3 linked regions of the Homo sapiens genome follow. The protein of the gene in region 1 purifies or fractionates together with the protein of each later gene. This does not show direct contact. Each region holds a gene or a part of one and is shown on either strand. Other genes may lie near its edges.

Region 1 (7,665 bases):
CAGGGGATGCTCCCTGGCTCTGGCCCCAGGAAGACTTCCTTGTGGTTGCTGCATGCCCCTCACGCCCTCCAGTCTGGTCCACAGGAGGCACCATCTACTCTTGGAACTCATAACTCTTTTAAAAATTCAAAATCATTACAGGTCATGAACCTCTGAAGTCACTTCTGAATAGTCAAACTTTCCAATTCCATAAACTCTTGAAAGACAATATGAAGAACTACTGAAGATTAAGGAGTAAAGTATCTAACTCAAAGCTGATTCCCTAAATAAAGATGTTCACTACACCTGTAAAAAAGAGAGGTGTTCTTGGCAAAAGGAACATAATGAAGAAAATCTTTGGGACAAGAAAGATCATGGGGTGCCACAAGAAGATACCACTCCGCACCCAGCAGGATGGCCATAATAAAAAGAATGGAAAAAAACAAGCATTGACAAGAAAGTGAAGAAATTGCAACCCTCATACATTGCTGGTGAAAATGTAAAATGATGCAGCTAGCTGCTTTGGCATTTCTTTAACAAGTTAAACACAGAATTACCATATGACTCAGCAATTCCACTCTTAGGTATATGCCAAAAAGAATACAAAACCTGCGCAAGAATGTTCACAGCAGCAGCACAACAGCCAAAAAGAGGAAACAACTGAAGTGGTCCATCAACTGATGAATGGATAAACAAAATACTCCATACAATGGAATATCATTAGCCATAAAAAAGAACGACACACTGACACATGTTCCAACACAGATGAACCCTGAAAACATGATGCAAGGGAAAGACACACAAAAGCCACATACTGAAATCACCAGAGTCAGCAAATCCATACAGACAGAGAGCACATTAGCGGTTGACAAGCGCTCGGGAGGGAGGACCAGGGAGTGACTGCTTAATGCTTATGACATTTCCATTTGGGGTGACAAAAAATTCTGGATAATGGTGATGGTTGTGCAATATTGTGAATGTACTTAATTGTGTACTTTAAAATGGTTAAATGGTATATTTTAAGTTATGAGTACTTCGGTGGGGCAATGGTGCATTCAGCATAAGTGAAATAAACCTTCAGACTGGTGATGCCAAGTTAACAGGTAAACATGGACCAGATGATGTGCTAAAGCATTTGGAACTTTCCCTGGAGGAAACAGAGAGTCAATGAAGTTTTAGTAACAGAGGCAGATGCTCAACTCTTCTTCAATAAAATACCAGAACTATCATTTACTAAGTAAATGCATTTACTGTGAATTCATGGTCTTTTTAATTCTCACAACTTATGTGAAGCCTGTTTAGAGATGGAGAGTCACAGAAGTTAGATAACTTGTCATGGTCCCAGAATTAGTAAAAATGCCAGGATTTGGGCTGAAGTCTTATTGTCTTTAAAGTCTATGGTCTCTTTGCTGTGTCTCACTTGGAAAGGGCAAAGTAAAGGAAACCATCAACCAGTACCTGCAGCAGGGCGTCCTGGCTGGGGAGCATGTGGCAACAGATAAAGAAGGGATGGATCTGAGAGACTTCGGAGATACATCCAATTAGGTAAAGGACTATTTGCTGAGACTAAAGGAGGAGTCAATGATTTCCCCCAACTTCCTAGCTTTGATGAATGTGCAAATGATGGTTTTATTCCCAAAGAGATACAGTGACATTGGCACTTATGTTCCTATACAACAAATCAAACATGTGTTACCATGTATAACCGGTTGCCATTCTGTATCGAAGAGGCACCTATTTTCTTAAAATATTCAAGAATCTGTTAATACATAAAACTTAGGTAACATGCCAGTTCAACCAGAAATATTTTTATCCATCAGAATTAGGAGGAAGCGGACTTTTTGCTGTCTCACCCCAGTGGCTACACTGCCCTTTGCGGAGATGTAGGCATGCACATCTCCATAGAAGTCCATCCTGGGCCCAGCCCCTGTCTACTCTCTCTACTTGTTCCCTGGGTCACCCCTTCCCTTCTCAGTCTTTCCCATCATGTGACTACGAAGGAGTCTCAGGTTTGTATCTTTAACCCAAATCTGTCTGTTTAAACTTCAGTTTACACACATAGAGTAGAAGCTCGCTTATCAGTCTCACTTTAACTGACTTGAATTGGAAAAATGACTCTCTCCAATCCCTCCCTGAAATACACGAGCTGATGCCCAAGGTATGATGACGACTTTCAGCAAGTAGGCTTCACTCTAATACATCGCAAGCTTTTGCCAGCTAAGTTGTATGTGTTCTCATATCCAGATGTGTTTGTTCTCAAATCTATTTTTGCTACCCGAACCTGTTATGGTAGTTATGTACTTTTAAGCTCATCAATGAAATATGAATGCAAAAGGAAACAGTTGTTTCTCTATAAGCTAAGTTGTATGTTTTTAAAAGGCTCACTTGAGTTTGTTAAAAAAATAATTAGGTATGGGGGAAAAATTGTAAAAGATTAAGAAAATTCTAAAGATAATCGTATCAAATTGGTTCTTAAATGCCTATATCCTTGTTTAACTTTAAATAAACTGATATTGGAAAATGTTAAGTCTGCTAAGATTAGGCCAAAACAGACACAGCCTAAAGAAAAGGCCCTGGGCTTACATCAAAAGATTGGCAAGTATAGAACTTGAGGTAAGTGGTGTAAAAAAAAAATTGGCAAGTGAATGTATACTTTCATGTTTTAAGTTAAAAACATACATCCATTTCTTCGTGATTCCTGTTTTAACCAGTTTTCTCAATTAACCAAGCAACTGCTGGGCCCAATCATGTCAGACTTTTCAGCTATCAAGTACGTATCTTTACCCAGTTGTCAACAGACACCTCAAACTCAACATGCCCAAAACTTTATTTCTCCCTCCAAATCCACTCTATTCATCTTTTTCCCAGATTACAAGCCTGGGAATCATTCTTAACTCCTCCGTGTCCCTCAGCCCACCCATTCTTATTCACCACGTCTTGGTAATGTTTCCTTCAAATATTTTAAAAATCCATTCCCTATATTTCCTATCCCTGTTACCACAGTGCTGGTTCTGAAGACAGGCATAGTTTAGTGGAAAGAATATGCGTTGAATCTTTACAAGTGTCCATCTTTTAACTGTGCTTCTGCTACTTACAAGCTGTTGAACAACATCTGTCAGACGCATGTACCGAGCGATATGAAGTGTGCATTGTGCTCGGAGAGTGAAGGGCGTTAAACGACAGCGAGGACGAGGGGCACGAGCCCGGCCTGCAGCACGGCCACAGCCTCGCGCTTACTCCTCCATCGCCTCCTGGAGTCCCCGAATTCATCCCGCATCCTGCTGGGAAACAGCGTCCATCCGACACAGCACCGCCCACAGCGGGCCCTCGGCGTGGCCCGCAGGCCCTTCGGACCGCCTGGGAGCGCGGCCACACGTGCCAGCAAGTGAGGGCAGCGACCTGGGACCGCCGCGTCTACTTACACCGCGACGACTCCGCGATCCACGGACACCGCCCGGCCCCCACGGCGGCCCTGCAGGGGAGAACTCGGGCCGCCTTCCCGAGTCCCGGCCGCCGCTGTTCGGCTCGCGCGGCTGCCCGCCGGGGACCCGAACGGAAGAAGGGTGGCGAGGCGGGAAAGGAAAAGGCCTGAGGGTCCAAGGCAGGAGGGGACACACGGAACACGCCGAGGGCCAACCACGCCGCCGCGCGCTCCCCGGCTAGGACCCACCTGCTGCAGGTACTGGTTAATGGTAATGTGCGCCATGGGAGCGCCGCCGAACGGAGAGCGCCACCCCCTACGCCTCAAGCGGGCCAGCTGGCGTCACTTCCGGCCCTCGGTCCGTCTGGGTCCTGGCGCCCCCGGCCCCGCCGCGGGTGCGCAGGTTGGTTCCGGAGGGAGAACCTGGGGACCGGCTCGGCGACGCGCTCGGGCTGAGGGGGCCCGGGGTCTTTCTGCCGGGGCCCCGTCCTCTCAGCCGGGACGCCAGCGGCTCTGATTGTGTGTTCGGGCCCGCCCGGGCTGAGGGGTTTGGGGTCCAGTGGCGAGGACAGCCCCACGGCTAAACTGCCTTTCACTGCGCTGACCCTTCGTCTGCCCCTTGTGAAAACCAGGCCGCGGAGGACCCTCCGCGCCTGGCTGGGCCAGGGCCTCGGGGCGCGCGCGCCCGAGGAGGGGGAGGGGGAGGGACATGGCGCGCGCTCCCGAGCTCTCATAAGGTGCCTCCGCCGCGCGCTCCCGAGCCTGCAGGAGTTAGGGCACGTCCCGGCGCGCACCCCTGAGCCCTCGAGGTGGTCTCACGCCCGGGGTGGGGGTGCCGAGCCCTCAGGAGGCGCGCGCCCCGGGGCCCTCAGGAGGGTGTCCCGGCTCCCGATCCCCTCAGGAGGGGTGCCCGCGGCACGCATCCCCGAGCCAGGAGGGGGTGCCCGGAGCCCTGGGGGCAGGGTCTCGGTGCGCCCCCCGGAGCCGGGGGTGAGGGTCCCGATCCCTCAGGACGGGAGTCCCGGCGCGCGCCCTCGAGCCAGGAGGGGGTGTCCGAATCTCTTAGGGGGAGTCCGATCCCTCAGGAGGGATTCCCGGCGCGCGTTCCTAAGCCCTCAGGAGTAGCCGGGCGCGGCGGCGGTTGGGCTCGGGCACGCGGGCGGGGCGGGGCGGGGCGCGCGAGGAGGACGGGGCGGAGGCCGCGCGGACCGGGGCGGGCGGAGCGGAGCTCGGCGGGCGGCGGCGCTCGGGGCGGGGCGCGGCGGTTCCGGCCCAGCCATGGCGGACGAGGCCCCGCGGAAGGGCAGCTTCTCGGCGCTCGTGGGCCGCACCAACGGCCTCACCAAGCCCGCGGCCCTGGCCGCCGCGCCCGCCAAGCCGGGGGGCGCGGGCGGCTCCAAGAAGCTGGTCATCAAGAACTTCCGAGGTGGGTGCGGCGGCCGGGTCGAGGGCCAGGCGCCCCGGGCGGGGACCCCACGAGACCCCGCCCGACTTGGGGGGAAGGCCCCGAGATCCGTGCGGGCCCCGGGAGCGGGGGCGCCGGGGCGCCGGCCGGGTCGGGGGTGGCTACGCGGGGCGCTTCGCGGCGCGCCCTGAGCCGCCCGCTCTCCCTCCGCCCTGCAGACAGACCTCGGCTGCCCGACAACTACACGCAGGACACGTGGCGGAAGCTGCACGAGGCGGTGCGGGCCGTGCAGAGCAGCACCTCCATCAGGTACAACCTCGAGGAGCTCTACCAGGTGAGGCGGCGGCCGGGGCTGGGGACGCCGCTCCTGCCCCGCGTGACGCAGACGCGGCCGGGCGGCCGCTCCGGGTGCCTCGCAGGCTCTCGCCGGGGAGCGGAAAGGCAGGGCGTTTGCCTCCACTGCAGGGCCGGGAGCCCCAGAGGCAACAAGTGGTTTTGTTTATTGCCGTGGTGGAATTTTTGTTTTCAGGCTTAAGCTGCTTAGAACCATATTTAAAGTTATCCCATTACGGAAGAGAAGGAGGTGTGTTTCTAGGAGCCACGTGACTCATATTTTGCAAGTATACGGCAAATTATTTTCTCGTTATATGTAAAACTCATGACTGTGTCACTTGCCACAGTAATAAGAGGGTCTTTTCTCTGTTGTGTTTTGTGATTAATGGTTGCCTTTAAGATATTCAAACAGATTTTGAAAAAATTCAAAATTCAGAAAAAGTGGTTTTGTTCTCTGTTGTGTTTTGTGATTAGTGGTTGCCTTTAAGGTATTCAAACAGATTTGGTAGCATTTAATTCAAAGTGATGGTGTTCCGTTTCTGAAGTAACAAAAAAGTACATTTTACCATACTTGGATATTTTATTTATAAGCGACTTTTTTTCTGGTGTCTTCTTTTTGTAAAGTAACATTCATTCAGTAGTCTAATATCTATATTTTAGGTCACGATGTGTCATACAATTATTTCTATTAAAAGGCTTGAATTAAAAAAACTTTTTTTCTGGATATGCAAGTGACTGCATTGTAAAAATTATAAAAAATACAAAAAAGAAGACTTCAATCACCTATACTCCTACCACCCAAAGAAAACTACTGTTGACAGTTTGGTGTACATACATCCATTCTTTGTCTGAAGTGTAAGTGGATGATGTTTTCTTACCAGCTTTGAGATAGAGTCTACATATAATGTGCACTTCAGGAAGTTTTAACAGATGCATGCAGTTACGTAACCGGCACCACGGTCAAGATGGAATCTTTCTTGGTAGAATGGTAGAATATTGCTACCACCCCCGAAATTGCCATGACCACTTTTGCAGTCAGCCCTCTCCCCTGACTCCTAGCCCTTGGCGGTCCCCCATTTGCTTTCTGTTACTATATTTTGCGATTTCTAGAACCTTATCTAAATGCAGTCATGTATTTCATAGTCTTTTGTATCTGGCTTTCACTTAGGACAGTGCTTTTGAGATTCATGCACAACGCAGTGTGATTGTAATTTATTACCTAGTAGAATGGGTATACCACAGTTGTTTTATCCATTCACCAGTTAATGGACATTTGGGTGTCCATGTTTGGGGTTTTTTGTTTGTTTGTTCTTTGAGACGGAGTTTCACTCTTGTGGCCCAGGCTGGAGTGCCATGGCACGATCTTGGCTCACTGCAACCTCCACCTCGCAGGTTCAAGCGATTCTCCTGCCTCAGCCTCCCGAGTCGCTGGGATTACAGGCACCTGCCACCACGCCTGGCTAATTTTTGTATTTTTAGTAGAGTCGGGGTTTCGCCATGTTGGGCAGGCTGGTCTCAAACTCCTGACCTCAGGTGATCCACCCACCTCGGTCTCTCAAAGTGCTGGGTTTACCAGCATAAGCCACCGCGCCTGGCCTTGGGTTGTTTTAAATAAAGCTGCTGTAAACATTTGTGAATAACCCTTTGTTTGGACATATATTCTTACTCCTCTCAGGTGAGTTCTGCTTACTTCTTTATCTAGAAGTAAGTTCTCAGGGTCATATGGAAAATGTATGTTTAACTTTGTACGGAATTTCTTGTTTTTGCAAGTGACTGCCCCTTTTGCGTCTCTCCCAGCAGTGTATGGGAGCTCCGGTTCCACTCCGCCACCAGCGTGTGCGTCTCTCCCAGCAGTGTATGGGAGCTCCAGTTCCACTCCGCCACCAGCGTGTGGTGTCCTCAGTCTGTAACTTTAGCTGTGCTTGTGGGTGTGTGGTGGAGTGTCATTGTAGTTTTAGTTTGCATTTCCCTCTGATGCTAAGCATCTTTGTATTTACTTGCCATTCTATGTATCTTCGTTGACGAAGTGTCTATTTAAATATTTTGCTCATTTTTATTGGGTTGGTTATTTTCTTATTATTGAGTATTTGAGTTTATTATGTATTCTGGATACAAGTCCTGTATCAGATATTCGCCTTGCAAATACTTTCTGCCTAGTCTTCAACTTGTCTTTTGATTCTCTTAACTGTGCCATTTGAAGAGTAATTGTTTTAAGTTTTCAAGTCACATGTATCAGTTTGTTCTTCTATGGATTGTGCTTTTAGTATCCAAGAAATCTTGCTTAATCTGAGGTCACAAAGTTTTCTCTTATACTTTCTTCCAGACATTTTAGAGTTTTAGGTTTTACATCTAGGTCTACGATCTATGTAGAGTGAATTTTTGTATATATTGTGAAATACAAATCTAGAGTCAGAGTCGGGTGCAGTGGCTCATGCCTGTAATCCCAGCACTTTGGGAGGCCAAGGTGGGTAGATCGCCTGAGCGTCAGGATTTTGAGACCAGCCTGGCCAACATGGTGAAACCCCAT
Region 2 (7,940 bases), on another chromosome or scaffold:
CATCACACCTGGCTTCCTTTCTGTTTTGTAGACTGGGTGCTGCCAGTTCATGAATCCCTAATAAAGCCAACTCAATCTTTAAAATTCAATTTGTTGGCCGGGTGCAGTGCTTCACGCCTGTAATCCCAGCACTTTGGGAGGCCGAGGCAGATAGATCACCTGAGGTCAGGAGTTTGAGACCAGCCTGGCCAACATGGTGAAACCCTGCCTCTACTAAAAATACAAAAACAAAAATTAGCCGGGAGTGGTGGCAGGCACCTGTAATCCCAGCTACTTGGGAGACTGAGGTGGCAGAATGGCTTGAACCTGGGAGGTGGAGGTTGCAGTGAGCCGAGATCGCACCACTGCACTCCAGCCTGGGAGCGACAGAGGGATACTCCATCTCTGTATATATATACGTATCCTGAAGTATGTTTATGGTCTGTTTCCTACAACTAGGGTATAAGCTCCATGAGGTCAGGACTTCGTTTTGTTTAGTGATGTACCTGCTGCCTGGTAGGCACTCCCAAATATTTGTTAAATTAATGACTGATAGGTGAATAGATAACCACTGACCCATACCAAAAAGGAGCACTTGCTTTTTGTTCGTTTTTGTTTTTGGGGTGGGGATATTTTTTTGGTTTGTTTGTTTGTTTGTTTTGAGACAAACAAATATGGCGAAACTCTATCTCTACAAAAAATACAAAATTTAGCCTGGCGTGGTGGCACGCATTTGCAGTCCCAGCTACTTGGGAGGCTGAGATGGGACAGTCACTTGAGTTCAGGAGGTTGAGGCTGCACTGAATTGTGATTGTAACACTGCACTCCAGCCTGGGTGACAGAGCAAGACTCTGTCTCAAAAACAACAATAACAAACACAAAACAAAACAAAAACAAAAAAAAAGAAACGTTTAGCAAACTTAGTTCTAAAATGCGCACAATCAACTGATTCAATGTCAAAGTCATCCTTAAATTCCACAATAATCTCTTGTTTTATGAGCTGTATAATTATCTGAACAATGTTTCAAAAGCACCTGAAACAACAAGGCAAAGGAGTTCTTTAATGTGTGAGAGAGCAGTGCAAACGATCAACTTTACTAACCCTAGAATAATTCTCATCTTGTTTTTATTTTAGCCTTCTATCTAGCTGAGAAGCACTATGCTCCTTGGAAGCTGCCTAGCATTCTTTAAAGAGAGACATTTTTCTGGCCAGGCACGGTGGCTCACACCTGTAATCCTAGCACTTTAGGAGGCCGAGGCAGGTGGATCGGTTGAGGCCAGGAGTCTGAGAACTGACTAGCCAACATGCTGAAAACCCATCTCTACTAAAAATACAAAAATGAGCCAGGTGTGGTGGCGCAAGCCTGATATCTCAGCTACTTGGGAGGCTGAGGCACAAGAATCACTTGAACCCAGGAGGTGGAGGTTGCAGTGAGCCAACATCTCACCAAAGAGATACATTTTTCTGACCTGGTTTTTCCAAATAGAAACAAGGCATTAGGTACTTTTCTTTGACAACCCTCTCAGTTTGTCCAGACCTGGTTGGTTTATCACTGGGGACTAGAATAAAATAAATTCCTTTTTAACTTCCCTTTGGCGAGAAGACCCCTCTTCCTGCAGGATTTCTCAAGTCCGTTCCATTGAGGGTTGCTGGCCCCTTCAAGTTTCCTTCATCCAGGCTCCTAAACGGAGAGATTGCATAATTCCCCTGTAAATTACAACTATCACCATATGGGGCTGTTCAGGGTCATAACACAGTTCTTCACCTGCTTTCTAGGAGCTTACACTTTGGGTGGGGATACAGACACCTAGAGCCAGAGTATGTCTGGCTCTTTCTAGGTGTCTGTACCCCTCTTTGTAGGGGTGGCAGGAGGAGCAGTGTGTGCAACTTGCTTAGGTTTAGGGGTAAGGAGGGGGTGGAGCAGCCTAGGCTAGCCAGATGTGAATTTTGGGTTTTTTTATGAGACAGAGTCTTGCTTTGTCAACCAGGCTGGAGTGTGGTGGTGTGATCTCGGCTCGCTGCAACCTCCGCCTCCCGGGTTCAAGTGATTCTCCTCCCTCAGCCTCTCGAGTAGCTGGGATTACAGGCATGCACCACCACGCCTGGCTAATTTTTGTATTTTTAGTAGAGATGGGGTTTCACCATCTCTACTGGTCGAGACCAGGCTGGTCTTGAACTCCTGACTTCAGGTGATTCACCCACCTCGGCCTCCCAAAGTGCTGAGATTACAAGCATAAGCCACTGTGCCTGGCCAGGAACTCAGTATTTAAGGGAAGAAAGCATGCAAGAGGAAAATAAGGAAGAAGGAGAGGCAGTGAGGCAAATGTTTTTTGTTTTGTTTTGTTTTGTTTTTCTTAAGACAGTGTCTCGCTCTGTCAGCAGGCTGGAGTGCAGTGGCGCAATCTCGGCTCACTGCAACCGCTGCCTCCCAGGTTCAAGCGATTCTTGTGCCTCAGCCTCCCAAGTAGCTGGTACTACAGGTGCGTGTCACCATGCCCAGCTAATATTTTGTATTTTTAGTAGAGACGGGGTTTCACAGTGTTAGCCAGGATAGTCTCAATCTCTTGACCTTGTGATCTGCCTGCCTCGGCCTCCCAAAGTGCTGGGATTACAGGCGTGAGCCACTGCACCCAGTCCAGCAAATGGTTATTTTATTTTATTTTTTGAAATAGAGTCTCAATCTGTTGCCCAGGCTGGAGTCCAGTGGGTCCATCTCGGCTCACTGCAATCTCCACCTCCTAGGCTCAAGTGATTCTCCTGCCTCAGCCTCCCAAGTAGCTGAGATTACAGGTGGGCACCACCACACCCAGCTAATTTTTGTATTTTTAGTAAAGATGGGGTTTTGCCATGTTGGCCAGGCTGGTCTTGAACTCCTGGCCTCAAGTGATCCACTCGCTTCCCAAAGTGCTGCGATTACAGGCATGAGCCACTGCACACCCTGCTGCACATTGTTACTTTTTTGTGAGTTTCTCATTAGTGTTCAGTAAATCTACATTTTATGTAAGATACAATAAACATTTGAAAAGAGGGAGTGGAGGAAAAAGTCAGTTATGCATCTGTCTCAGGATAGGTGGAGGGATGATTCCTGGTCTCTTCCTTGTTCTATAATTGGGAAGATAAGCTTGTAATCAACATTGTCAGTATGAGATTTCACAGAACTCGGATTAGGGCTGGTTTATAGGGGGAATGTTTATGCTGAAAGATTCAGAGGCTAATGAGGAATTTCCTGGCAAGCAATTTGTGAGGAAGACCATCTGGGGAGGTATATGCCTTTTGCCATTGTAGGAGCCTGGCTTATGTATGAGGCTATGACACAGGGTTGTGGAATTACAGCTATCTGGGAACAAAAAGGAAGGGAGTTTTGACTCACTTCCCAAGCATAAATTTCCTCGGCATGCCTCTACCATACCCAGCGAATTTTGTTTCCATGTTTTGTTGAAACAAGGTGTCACCATGTTGCCAAGGCTGGTCTCAAACTCCTGGGTTCAAGTGATCCTCCAACCTTGGCCTCCCAAAGTGCTAGGATTACAGGCGTGAGTCACCATGCCTGGCCTTGTGGAGTTATCTTCTTTCTTTCTTTCTTTCTTTCTTTTTTTTTTTTTTTTGAGATGGAGTCTCACTTTGTCTTGCCCGGGCTGGAGTGCAGTGGCGCGATCGCAGCTCACTGCAGCTTCCACCTCCCGGGTTCAAGCAATTCTCCTGCCTCAGGCTCCTGAGTAGCTGGGATTACAGGCGCCTGCCACCACGCCTGGCTAATTTTTGTATTTTTAGTAGAGATGGGGTTTCACCATGTTGGCTAGGCTCGTCTCAAACTGCTGACCTCAAGTGATTGTCTGGCCTCGGTCTCCCAAAATGCTGGTATTACAGGTGTGAGCCACCATGCCTGGCCTTGTGGGGTTATTTTCGAAAGTCCTTGAGATAATTCCTATCTCAGACATGCAAGCATGAGACCTTCTCCTTGGTGTTCTCATGGCTCCAATTTGTTTGGACCTGACAATGTGATTTTGTCCTGGTATCTGCAACTTTCACAAGATGGAGCAACTAACTCAACACCAGATTCCACCCCTAATTATTCCTTCATTCACTCAAAAAGTATCTAGGCTCCAATGTGTCAGGCACCGTGTTGGTCACAGGGGATACCATGATGAACAAGAGAAGGAACCACAGGCTTTTGAATGGGAAACTAAAGCATGTGAAAAACACACGGAGAGCTGGGTGCGGTGGCTCATGCCTGTAATCCCAGTGCTTTGGGAGGCTGAGGATGGAGGATCTCTTCTGCCCGGGAGTTGGAGACCAGCCTGGACAACCTAGTGAGACCCCCGTCTCTATCAAAATAAAAACAAATAATAAAATTAGCTGGGTGCGGTGGGGTGCGCCTGTAGTCCCAGCTACTCGGGAGGCTGAACTGGGAGGATCACTTGAGCCCAGGAGTTTGAGGGTGCAGTGAGCTGACATCAGGCCACTGCACTCCAGCCTGGGCGACAGAGCGAGACCCTGTCTCAAACAAAACAAAACAAACCACCACCACCACCAGACATGAGGGCCAGTGCAGCTGAAGCCTGAAGATCAAGGGCTAGAAGAGGCCAGGCCGGGGCCAGATCAGGCAGGGCCTTGCAGGTTGTGGTTAGTTGTTTGGATTTTATTGTGAGGGAAATAACACGACATGTCATTCCTTCTGCAACAGCCTTAAGAACTAGGCGTTCTTATCCCAATTTCACAGACGAGGACGATCAAGTCGTTAATTTGTCAAAGGTCACCCGCAGGCGACAGGCGGGGACAGGGTCTGGGAAAACCCGCTAGGCACCGAGGCCCAGAGGGCGTCGGGCGTCCCCGCACCGAGTGCCGCCCGCCGCGACCCGGGAACTGCCTGCTCCCCGGACGCCAGGCCCGCCGCACGCCGCGGGGACACCGAACATGCGCCGCTCGCCTTACGGAAGCCGGGAAGGAAGGGGGCGGGGCCGAGGCTGGCGGGCGCGGGGAAAATGGCGGCGGCGGCGGCGGCGGCTGCAGCTACGAACGGGACCGGAGGAAGCAGCGGGATGGAGGTGGATGCAGCAGGTAACGGGCCGTGCGGGGGTGGCTTCCGGAGACCTCCTTCAGGGGTTCGTTGAGGCCTCCCTGTGCTCCCGGGAGAAGGGAGGAGGGCGGAGCAGCAACATCTTTCCCTGGGATAAGTTACGGGAGGAAAGTGTGGCCCGGGCTCCGCCGTCCCCCACTGCCATCTCCAGGGAAGAACGTGGGGCCCGGACTCTCACCCTCTCTCCTTTCCCTCCACCCTTAGTAGTCCCCAGCGTGATGGCCTGCGGAGTGACTGGGAGTGTTTCCGTCGCTCTCCATCCCCTTGTCATTCTCAACATCTCAGACCACTGGATCCGCATGCGCTCCCAGGAGGGGCGGCCTGTGCAGGGTGAGTGTTGGGCATAGACTCCAGTCTCTTCTCCTTGCTCACCTCCCCCAGGCAGTGGTCTTTTCCCCTTCCTCTACTGGAGCCAATTCCCCCTCCCCCAAATCATCGTTTCCCCAATACATGGTTCCCACTGATCTCAGACCCTCAGGTCATAGAAGTTTCTTTACCCTCACCTTTTCCATGTCATTCTCTTTCCCAGTGATTGGGGCTCTGATTGGCAAGCAGGAGGGCCGAAATATCGAGGTGATGAACTCCTTTGAGCTGCTGTCCCACACCGTGGAAGAGAAGATTATCATTGACAAGGAATATTATTACACCAAGGAGGAGCAGTGTGAGAGTGGAATAGATGTGGGGAAGAGGAGTGGGAGTTAAAAAAAAAATGTACAGGGTGGGGAAGATGGAGAGGGTTGGAAAGAAACAGGAGAGGAGACCAAGAACAGGGGAGAAAAAGTGAAGAGTAGCTGGAGAGATCTCAGAAAAAGAAAACGTTCAGAGTTCTTTCTCAAAAGAAAGCAAAGGATGAGAGGAGACAGGATAGAAGGGAGTAGTTATTCTAAACTGAGCCAGGATTTGAGGAGGGAGGAGAGAAGCTGGTGAAAATACACCAGGAGCTTCACATTGAGGAAGGATGGTTTAAAGAATTACTATGTCAGGCCGGGCTCAGTGACTCATGCCTCTAATCCCAGCACTTTGGGAGGCCGAGGTGGGTGGATCATGAGGTCAGGAGTTCAAGACCAGCCTGGCAAACATAGTGAAACCCCACCTCTACTAAAAATACAAAAATTAGTCTGGCATGGTGGTGCGTGCCTGTAGTCCCAGCTACGCGGGATGCTGAGGCAGGAGAATTGCTTGAACCTGGGAGGCGGAGGTTGTGGTGAGCTGAGATCATGCCACTGCACTCCAGCCTGGGCAACAGAGCGAGATTCCGTCTCAGAAAAAAAAAAAAAAAGAATTACTATATGTTCTGGCCCCTTCCCCTCTAGTTAAACAGGTGTTCAAGGAGCTGGAGTTTCTGGGTTGGTATACCACAGGGGGGCCACCTGACCCCTCGGACATCCACGTCCATAAGCAGGTATGCATGCTCACACCTGTGCATGCTGGGGCAGAGAATGGAGAATGAGGGGAAGGAGAAAGGTAGGGGGCACTGACTTCCTGTGCATTGTCCCTCTCTTCCAGGTGTGTGAGATCATCGAGAGCCCCCTCTTTCTGAAGTTGAACCCTATGACCAAGCACACAGATGTGAGTAATACTCCATGCCTACTCTGTCATGATTGTCGCTATACCTTTTACTGTGTGACACTCCTCTATTGGGGAATGCCAGATGCCACTTACCAGCTGTGACTCTGGCTTAGTCATTTAATCTCCAAACTGTGAAAGGAGGTAATCCCTACTTCATTGGTTTCTTGGGAAGATGAGAGGAAATGTGTAAAAGCAGCTAGCCCAAATGTTGGCATATAGTGTTCAGGTTTCTCCGTCTCCTTCACAGCTTCCTGTCAGCGTTTTTGAGTCTGTCATTGATATAATCAATGGAGAGGTAATACCCTACCCTTCAACCCTCAGATCCTGCTCTTGGCCTCTTTCCTGCTTTTGATTCTCCCTTTGTGGGTTACCTTGCCCTGTAGGCCACAATGCTGTTTGCTGAGCTGACCTACACTCTGGCCACAGAGGAAGCGGAACGCATTGGTGTAGACCACGTAGCCCGAATGACAGCAACAGGCAGTGGAGAGAACTCCACTGGTAATGGAGGGGATTCCTTGGAAGTGGGGTTGGAAGGTGTGGCCACATCCCGTCTCAACCTCCTCCTGTCCTCATCCCCTTGCAGTGGCTGAACACCTGATAGCACAGCACAGCGCCATCAAGATGCTGCACAGCCGCGTCAAGCTCATCTTGGAGTACGTCAAGGCCTCTGAAGCGGGTAGGACAGGGGCTTCCCTGGCATTCTTCCTCTCCCTCCTGGGGAAGTGACAGCATCCAAACTAATGTAGTCTCTTTTTGTGCCTTTAGGAGAGGTCCCCTTTAATCATGAGATCCTGCGGGAGGCCTATGCTCTGTGTCACTGTCTCCCGGTGCTCAGCACAGACAAGTTCAAGACAGATTTTTATGATGTGAGTGTAAAACCCGGATGGGGAGGCGGGGCTTATGCTGTCACTTTCACGTGCAGGACTGGGGACTGTTGTTCCCCGGGCATGCCACGAGGGATCCCGAGGAACTGGTCCTTTCTGTTCCCTCCCAGCAATGCAACGACGTGGGGCTCATGGCCTACCTCGGCACCATCACCAAAACGTGCAACACCATGAACCAGTTTGTGAACAAGTTCAATGTCCTCTACGACCGACAAGGCATCGGCAGGAGAATGCGCGGGCTCTTTTTCTGATGAGGGTACTTGAAGGGCTGATGGACAGGGGTCAGGCAACTATCCCAAAGGGGAGGGCACTACACTTCCTTGAGAGAAACCGCTGTCATTAATAAAAGGGGAGCAGCCCCTGAGCACCCCTGCTGGTGGCTCTGTCCTCTGTTAGGCACCACACTGGTTGGTCAACTTGGATGTTCATC
Region 3 (7,017 bases), on another chromosome or scaffold:
TGAGGTGGGCAGATCACGAGGTCAGGAGATTGAGACCATCCTGGCTAACACGGTGAAACCCCATCTCTACTAAAAATACAAAAAAAATTAGCCGGGCATGGTGGCACGCGCCTGTAGTCCCAGCTACTCAGGAGGGATTTTCCTACTAAGGCAGGAAAATCGCTTGAACCCAGGAGGTGGAGGTTGCGGTGAGCTGTGATCGTGCCATTGCACTCCAGCCTGGGCAACAAAAGTGAAACTCCATCTCAAAAAAAAAAAAAAGAAAAGAAAAGAAAAAAAAGAAAGAAGCCAGTTCCTTGGTGTAGTTAATTTACTTTGAGAGGTATTTGCCAGTTGGGATATGTCCTAAAAAGTGACTGACATTTTATTCAGGGCCTGGTATATCTTGAGCTCAGTGCTAGCTAGTATTTTTACTTTATCCAGTGTAACCTTCATGACTGTCCTGTGAGGTGAGAATCATTTTCCCTATTATACCTATGAAGAAACAGATTCAGAGAAATTAAGTTATTTGCTTAAGGTCACACAGCAAGTAAGAGGAAGGACTGGAATTCAAACCCAGGTCTCTCTGCTCTGTGATATTGAATTGCCTCTGGGACTGTGACACATGAAGAAGAACTGAAAAGACCAAGGCTAAGAGCCTGGGGGAACATGATACCTCATTCAAATACTTGAAGATTGTCATGGGGAAAGGAAACTGGATGTTCTCTGTGATTCTAGAAGGCATCTCAGGATTAAATGACATAATTTCCAAGAAGGTAGACTTTGGTTTGATAGGAGATAATGTAGCTTTCTAAAAACAAAATGGGCTGCCTTGTGAGGGAGTGAGTTACCCATCATTGCAGATATTCAAGCAGAGAGTTTGCCACATCTTTTTTTTTTCTTTGAGACAGAGTCTTACTTCGTCATCCAGGCTGGAGTGCAGTGGCATGATCTCAGCTCACTGCAACCTCTGCCTCCCAGGTTCAAGTGATTCCCATGCCTCACTTCATCTTCCAGGCTGGAGTGCAGTGGCATGATCTCGGCTCACTGCAACCTCTGCCTCCCAGGTTCAAGTGATTCTCATGCCTCAGCCTCCCAAGTAGCTGGAATTATAGGCATGTACCACCACGCCCATCTAATTTTTGTATTTTTGTAGAGATGGGGTTTCACCATGTTGACCAGACTGGTCTTGAACTCCTGACCTCAGGTGATCCGCCCGCCTCAGCCTCCCAAAGTGCTGGGATTACAGGTGTGAGACACCGCGCCCAGCCCCGGCTAATTTTTTTGTATTTTTATTAGAGACAGGGTTTTGCCATGTTGCCCAGGCTGGTCTTGAACTCCTGAGTTCCACCTGCCTCGGTCTCCCAAAGTGCTAGGATTACAGGCATGAGCCACCGCTCCTGGCTTTTTTTTTTTTTTTTTTTTTATGAGACAGGGTAGATGGGAAGACAGGTGTGTGCCATCACGCCTGGCTAATTTTTTAATTTTTTCATAGAGATGGGGTTTCACTATGTTGCTCAGGCTGGTCTCAAACTCCTGGGCTCAAGCAGTCTGCCTACCTCAGCCTCCCAAAGTCCTGGGAATACAGGTGTGAGCCACCATGCCCAGCCTCCCTGTCTGTTTGATCTGTAAAACCTAACATGGCTTGGCACGGTGGCTCACACCTGTAATCCCAGCACTTTGGGAGGCCTAGGTGGGTGGATTGCTTGAGCCCAGGAGTTTGAGACCAGCCTGAGCAACATAGTGAAACCCAGTCTCTACAAAAAGAAAATTTAAAAATTAGCCAGGTGTGGTAGCATGTGCCTGTATTCCCATCTACCCAGGAATCTGAGGCGGGGGCATCACTTGAGTGCAGGAGGCAGAGGTTGCAGTGAGCCAAGACTGCGCTACTGAACTCCAGCATGGGCAACAGAGACCCTGTCTCAAAAAAAAAAAAAAAAAAAAAAAGCCAGTTGTGCAGTGGCTCATGCCTGTAATCCTAGCACTTTGGGAAGCTGATGTGGGCAGAGCTCAGGAGTTGGAGGCCAGCCTGGGCAACATGGCAAACCTGTCTCTACTAAAAATACAAAAAATTAGCCAGCCGTGGTGGTGCACACCTGTAATCCCAGCTACTTGGGAGGCTGAGTCATGAGAATTGCTTGAACCTGGGACGCAGAGGTTGCAGTGAGCCAAGATCGTGTGCACTCCAGCCTGGGGGACAGAGTGAGACTCTGTCTCAAAAAAAAAAAAAAAACCAAAAAAACCCAAAAAAACTAACATGTATTGAATATTTAGTATATACCAGGCACTTGCTAGATACTTTTTCTTTCTTTTTTTAAGACAGAGTTTTGCTCTTATTGCCCAGGCTGGAGTGCACACGATCTCTGCTCACTGCAACCTCCGCCTCCTAGGTTCAAGCAATTCTCCTGCCTCAGCCTTCTGAGTAGCTGAGATTATAGGTGCGCGCCACCATGCCTGGATAATTTTTGTATTTTTTTAGTAGAGATGGGGTTTCACCATGTTGGCCAAGCTGGTCTCGAATTCCTGACCTCAGGTGATCCACTCACCTTGGCCCCCCAAAGTGCTGGGATTACAGGCATGAGCCACCAGGCCCAGCTCTACTTTTTCTATAATGTCTCTTATAATCTTCAGAGCTCCCCTGGAAGGAAGGTATTACCATTATCCCCACTTTACAAATGAGAAACTGAGACTCTAGACTAAAGTTAAGGAATATGCTGGAGGTTACACAACTAGTAGTGTAGGGCTGATATTTGAACCCATGTCTCCTCCTTAGCTCTGTGACCTAGGGCCAATCATGTATCCTCTCAGAGCTATAGTTTCACCTATAAAATGAGGCTTATTGTAGTACCTACTTTTTAGTGGGTTTTTGAGGACTAAATGATGAAATATATCCTTTTTACTAGACCTCACTGATTGCCCTCAAGAGCCAGGGCTTGGATGTAAAGGAATACCACTTAGTTGGCTTCTTCTGGGTAAATTCAGGCCTATGTGTAACTCTGAGAGTTCTAGGGCCCATTCTTTGAGCTATTAAGTAATAGCTGCTGACTCCTTGAAGGGCTTTGTGGCATTGAAGACTAATACCTTAAAAACTTTTAAGCCTGGGCTGGGCGCAGTGGCTCATGCCTGTAATCCCAGAACTTTGGGAGGCTGAGGTGGGCGGATCACAAGGTCAGGAGTTTGAGACCAGCCTGGCCAAGGTGGTGAAACCCTGTCTCTACTAAAAATACAAAAATTAGCCTGGCGTGGTGGCGGGTGTCTGTAGTCCCAGCTACTCAGGAGGCTGCGGCAGGAGAATCGCATGAACTCAGAAGGTGGAGGTTGCAGTGAGTTGAGATCGCAACACTGTACTCCAGCCTGGGTGACAGTGAGACTCCATCTCAAAAAAAAAAAACAAAAAAACTTTAAGCCTGAATAAGGGGAGGATGCAGTCAAAAGGCCAGAGTGTATAGGAGGCAGTGTCAGAGGCCCTGTGCAAAGAAAATTCTCAGCTACTACTGCAGAGCCAGATTTGAGGGTCACCGTTGGCATTTTTGTATTTATTATCTTCTTTTAGGATACAAGGTCACAACTGCTAGAGCTGTAACAGAGCTCAGTGCCAAGAATAATGACCCTTAATCCTCCGTATAGCCATCTGGGGAGGTATTAACCCCATTTTCTTGGAGATGGGGTGGAGAACAGGATCAGACCTTGCCCAGGGAGCTCTCCAGAGGCTGTTGAGGGCAGTGTTTGGATCAGGACTTTTGTACAATTTTGTCCTTATTCATGACCCCCCAAATTCTATAAAACTGCTTATCCTTGAACCTCTTAGGGGGCCTTCCTGAGAATGGGAGCTAGGCATTCATGGTCAGGGAGCTTCATAGTTGAGGCCTGAGTGTTTGGGTGCTGATGGCCTACCTGGTTCCCTTTTGAGTTACACATCTGGATATAACACTACTGTCACTGAGTTAGAAAGGAAACATTTCTAACTTGAATGGTTTAGTTTTCCTTGACCTTGCAGCTAGTAGTAGAGTTACAGGATGAAACTCCAGAGCCTTCTCTACAAGAGATATTTTGAATTGTGGCAGGATTTGTCAGGATGCAAGTTAAAGACTGCAGATGCTTTTAAATAGTGAGAGAGTATAGCATTATCAAAATATGCTCCCTTTTCTCTGTTTCCTTCCACTATCTTAAGGTAATTGTGAGGCCTAAGAGCAGACAGGAAAATTAGCTATGATCACTGGAAAACAAAGTTCTGAAAACATCCAGAAAAAATTTTCACAAAGCTCAAACAAGTGGCTGGGTGTGATGTCTCACACTGTTTTTTTTTGTTTTTTTTTTTTTGAGAGTCTCGCTGTGTCACCCAAGATGGAGTGCAGTGGTGCAATCTTGGCTCACTGCAGCCTCAGGCTCCTGGGTTCAAGCGATTCTCTTGCCTCAGCCTCCTGAGTAGCTAGGATTACAGGCGTGTGCCATCACGCCTGGCTAATTTTTGTATTTTTAGTAGAGACGGGGTTTTACCATGTTGGCCAGGCTGGTCTCCAACTCCTGACCTCCAGTGATCCTCCTGCCTTGGCCTCCCAAAGTGTTGGGATTACGGGGATGAGCCACCGTGCCTGGCCAGATGGTTCACACTTGTAACCCTAGCACTTTGGGAGGGTGAGATGGGAGGATTGTTTGAGGCCTGGACTTCAAGAACAGCCTGGGCAAAATGATGAGACCCCCATCTCTACAAAAAATAAAAATAAAAGTAGCCAGGCATGGTGATTTGCACCTGTAATCCTAGCTACTCAAGAGGCTGAGGCAGGAGGATCCCTTAAGCCTAGGAGTTCAAAGTTGCAGTAAACTGTGATAGTGCTACATTCCATTCCAGCCTGGGGAACAGAGCTAGACCCTGTCTCTTTTTTTTTTGAGACGGAGACGGAGTTTCGCTCCTGTCGCCCAGGCTGGAGTGCAATGGTGCAATCTCGGCTCACTGCAACCTCTGCCTCCCGGGTTCAAGTGATTCTCCTGCCTCAGCCTCCCGAGTAGCTGGGATAACGGGTATGCACCACCACGCCTGGCTAATTTTTTGTATTTAGTAGAGACAGGGTTTCACCATGTTGGTCAGGCTGGCCTCAAACTCCTGACCTCAGGTGATTCACCCACCTCGGCCTCCCAAAGTGCTGGGATTACAGGCGTGAGCCACCGCACCCAGGCGACCCTGTCTCTTAAAAGCTCAAACAGCAATACGGAGCCCACTGGGCAGGGGAGAAGACATCAAGGTGAGTTTTTATCTAAAGCTTCCCAGAAAGTAAAGCATTGCTTAGAAGCAGCTCTCTTCTGCAGAGAAAACCTCAAGCAGTCCTACATGGGATTATTTAAGCCAGGAGCCTCAAAGATGGCTAAGAAGTTTCCTGAAGATGCTTTGGTGATGAGTCTATCCTACCAGCGAAAGCTTTCCCAGAAACTGTCCTTGTACCAACTTAGTCCATGACCTTGAAATGGCACTCTTTAAATTTGTGTTTGAGATCAGCAGAGTCAAGGCAGCTTAACCCTAAGGAATGGTAAGAGACAAAGTTTCAGCAGCTTCCTGAAATTGTATCAATACTGATATTACAGGTGTGAGCCGCTGCTCCCTGGCCAGTAATTTTTTTTTTTTTTTTTTTTTTTTTTGAGACAATGTCTCACTCTGTCACCCAGGCTGAAGTGCAGTGGCATGATCTCGATCTTGGCTCACTGCAACCTCTGCCTCCTGAGTTCAAGTGATTCTCCTGCCTCAGCCTCCCCAGCAGCTGGGATTACAGGCGCCTGCCACCATGTCCGGCTAATTTTTGTATTTTTAATAGAGACAGGGTTTCACCACATTGGCCAGGCTGGTCTGGAACTCCTGACCTCAAGTGATCTGCCCGCCTTGGCCTCCCAAAGTGCTGGATTACAGGTGTGAGCCACCACACCCGGCCCAGTAATTATTATTTAGTGGCCAATGGCCTGGCCCCTGGAGTCAGACTGTATAGGTTGACTCTCTGTCTAAGAACTGTGTAGCTTTGGCAACTTCACTTTTCTGTGCCTCAGATCCTGCATCTGTAAGATGAGGATAACAATAGCACCTGTCTCATAGGATTATTATGAGGAGTCTGTGAGATGACACTTGTAAACTGTTAGAATGTTCAATAAATATTATTTAATAGGATCAGTGTCAGGCATTTTACATGCAAGCGCTTCTGTTCCTCCTCACCCTGCAGAGGTAGGTATTATCAGATTAGGAAACTAAGGTTTAGAAGTGTCAAGTCAGGGTCTGGCATGGTGACTCATGCCTATAATCCCAACACTTTGGGAGGCTGAGGTGGGCAGATCGCTTGAGCCCAGGAGTTCGAGACCAGCCTGGGCAGCATGGTGAAACCCCATCTCTACAAAAAAAAAAAAAAAAAATGCAAAAATTAGCCAGGTGTGTGTGGGTGGTGCATGCCCGTGGTCCCAACTACTCGGGAGGCTGATGAGATGGGAGGATCTCTTGGGCCCGGGAGGCAGAGGTTGCAGTGAGCTGAGATCATGCTACCACACTCCAGCCTGGGTGACAGAGCCAGACCCTGTCTCAAAACAAATAAAAATTTTTTTAAAAAAATTAAAAAGATGAAGAGACGTAAGAGGTATAGAAAAGAAAAAAAAATTTAAAAGAAATGTCAAGTCAGACAGAAAATAGGTGTCAGAACTGGGATTTGAACCTAAGATCTGTTAGGTCCACAGCTACACTCTTCATTTTATTATGCTCTTTCTTTCTTTTGTTTTGTTTTGTTTTTGAGACAGCGCCTCACTTTGTCACACGGGCTGGAGTGCAGAGGCACAATCATAGCTCAATATAGCCTCAAACTCCTGGGCTCAAGCAATTCTCCCTCCTCCCTCCTGCCTCAGCCTTCCTAGTAGCTAGGACTACAGGAGTGTGCCACCATGCCTGGCTAATTTTTAAAAAACTTTTTTATAGAGACAGGATCTTACTCTGTTGCCCAGACTGCTCTCGACCTCCCGGCCTTCAAGTGATCCTCCTGCCTCGGTCTCCCAAAGCACTGAGATTACAGGCATGAG

The links. The genes of interacting proteins can lie anywhere in the genome.
Region 2: the proteins of CUL4A (region 1) and COPS6 purify together in Homo sapiens (affinity purification with mass spectrometry; 15 studies listed by BioGRID and IntAct, with this or other methods). This does not show direct contact.
Region 3: the proteins of CUL4A (region 1) and WDTC1 purify together in Homo sapiens (affinity purification with mass spectrometry; 11 studies listed by BioGRID and IntAct, with this or other methods). This does not show direct contact.

What each region holds. Positions count from the first base shown.
Region 1 is NC_000013.11:113,204,950-113,212,614, forward strand, and holds the start of CUL4A (cullin-4A), read left to right. Parts: upstream 1-4,663; 5' UTR 4,664-4,678; coding exon 4,679-4,826; intron 4,827-5,023; coding exon 5,024-5,139; intron 5,140-7,665. Other genes in the region: PCID2 (PCI domain-containing protein 2), read right to left, coding at 3,650-3,685. UniProt on the Homo sapiens protein: Core component of multiple cullin-RING-based E3 ubiquitin-protein ligase complexes which mediate the ubiquitination of target proteins. As a scaffold protein may contribute to catalysis through positioning of the substrate and the ubiquitin-conjugating enzyme.
Region 2 is NC_000007.14:100,084,029-100,091,968, forward strand, and holds the start of COPS6 (COP9 signalosome complex subunit 6), read left to right. Parts: upstream 1-4,940; 5' UTR 4,941-4,962; coding exon 4,963-5,038; intron 5,039-5,261; coding exon 5,262-5,387; intron 5,388-5,586; coding exon 5,587-5,718; intron 5,719-6,370; coding exon 6,371-6,459; intron 6,460-6,563; coding exon 6,564-6,626; intron 6,627-6,873; coding exon 6,874-6,921; intron 6,922-7,009; coding exon 7,010-7,124; intron 7,125-7,209; coding exon 7,210-7,302; intron 7,303-7,391; coding exon 7,392-7,492; intron 7,493-7,620; coding exon 7,621-7,761; 3' UTR 7,762-7,940. UniProt on the Homo sapiens protein: Component of the COP9 signalosome complex (CSN), a complex involved in various cellular and developmental processes.
Region 3 is NC_000001.11:27,237,615-27,244,631, forward strand, and holds part of WDTC1 (WD and tetratricopeptide repeats protein 1), read left to right. Parts: intron 1-7,017. UniProt on the Homo sapiens protein: May function as a substrate receptor for CUL4-DDB1 E3 ubiquitin-protein ligase complex.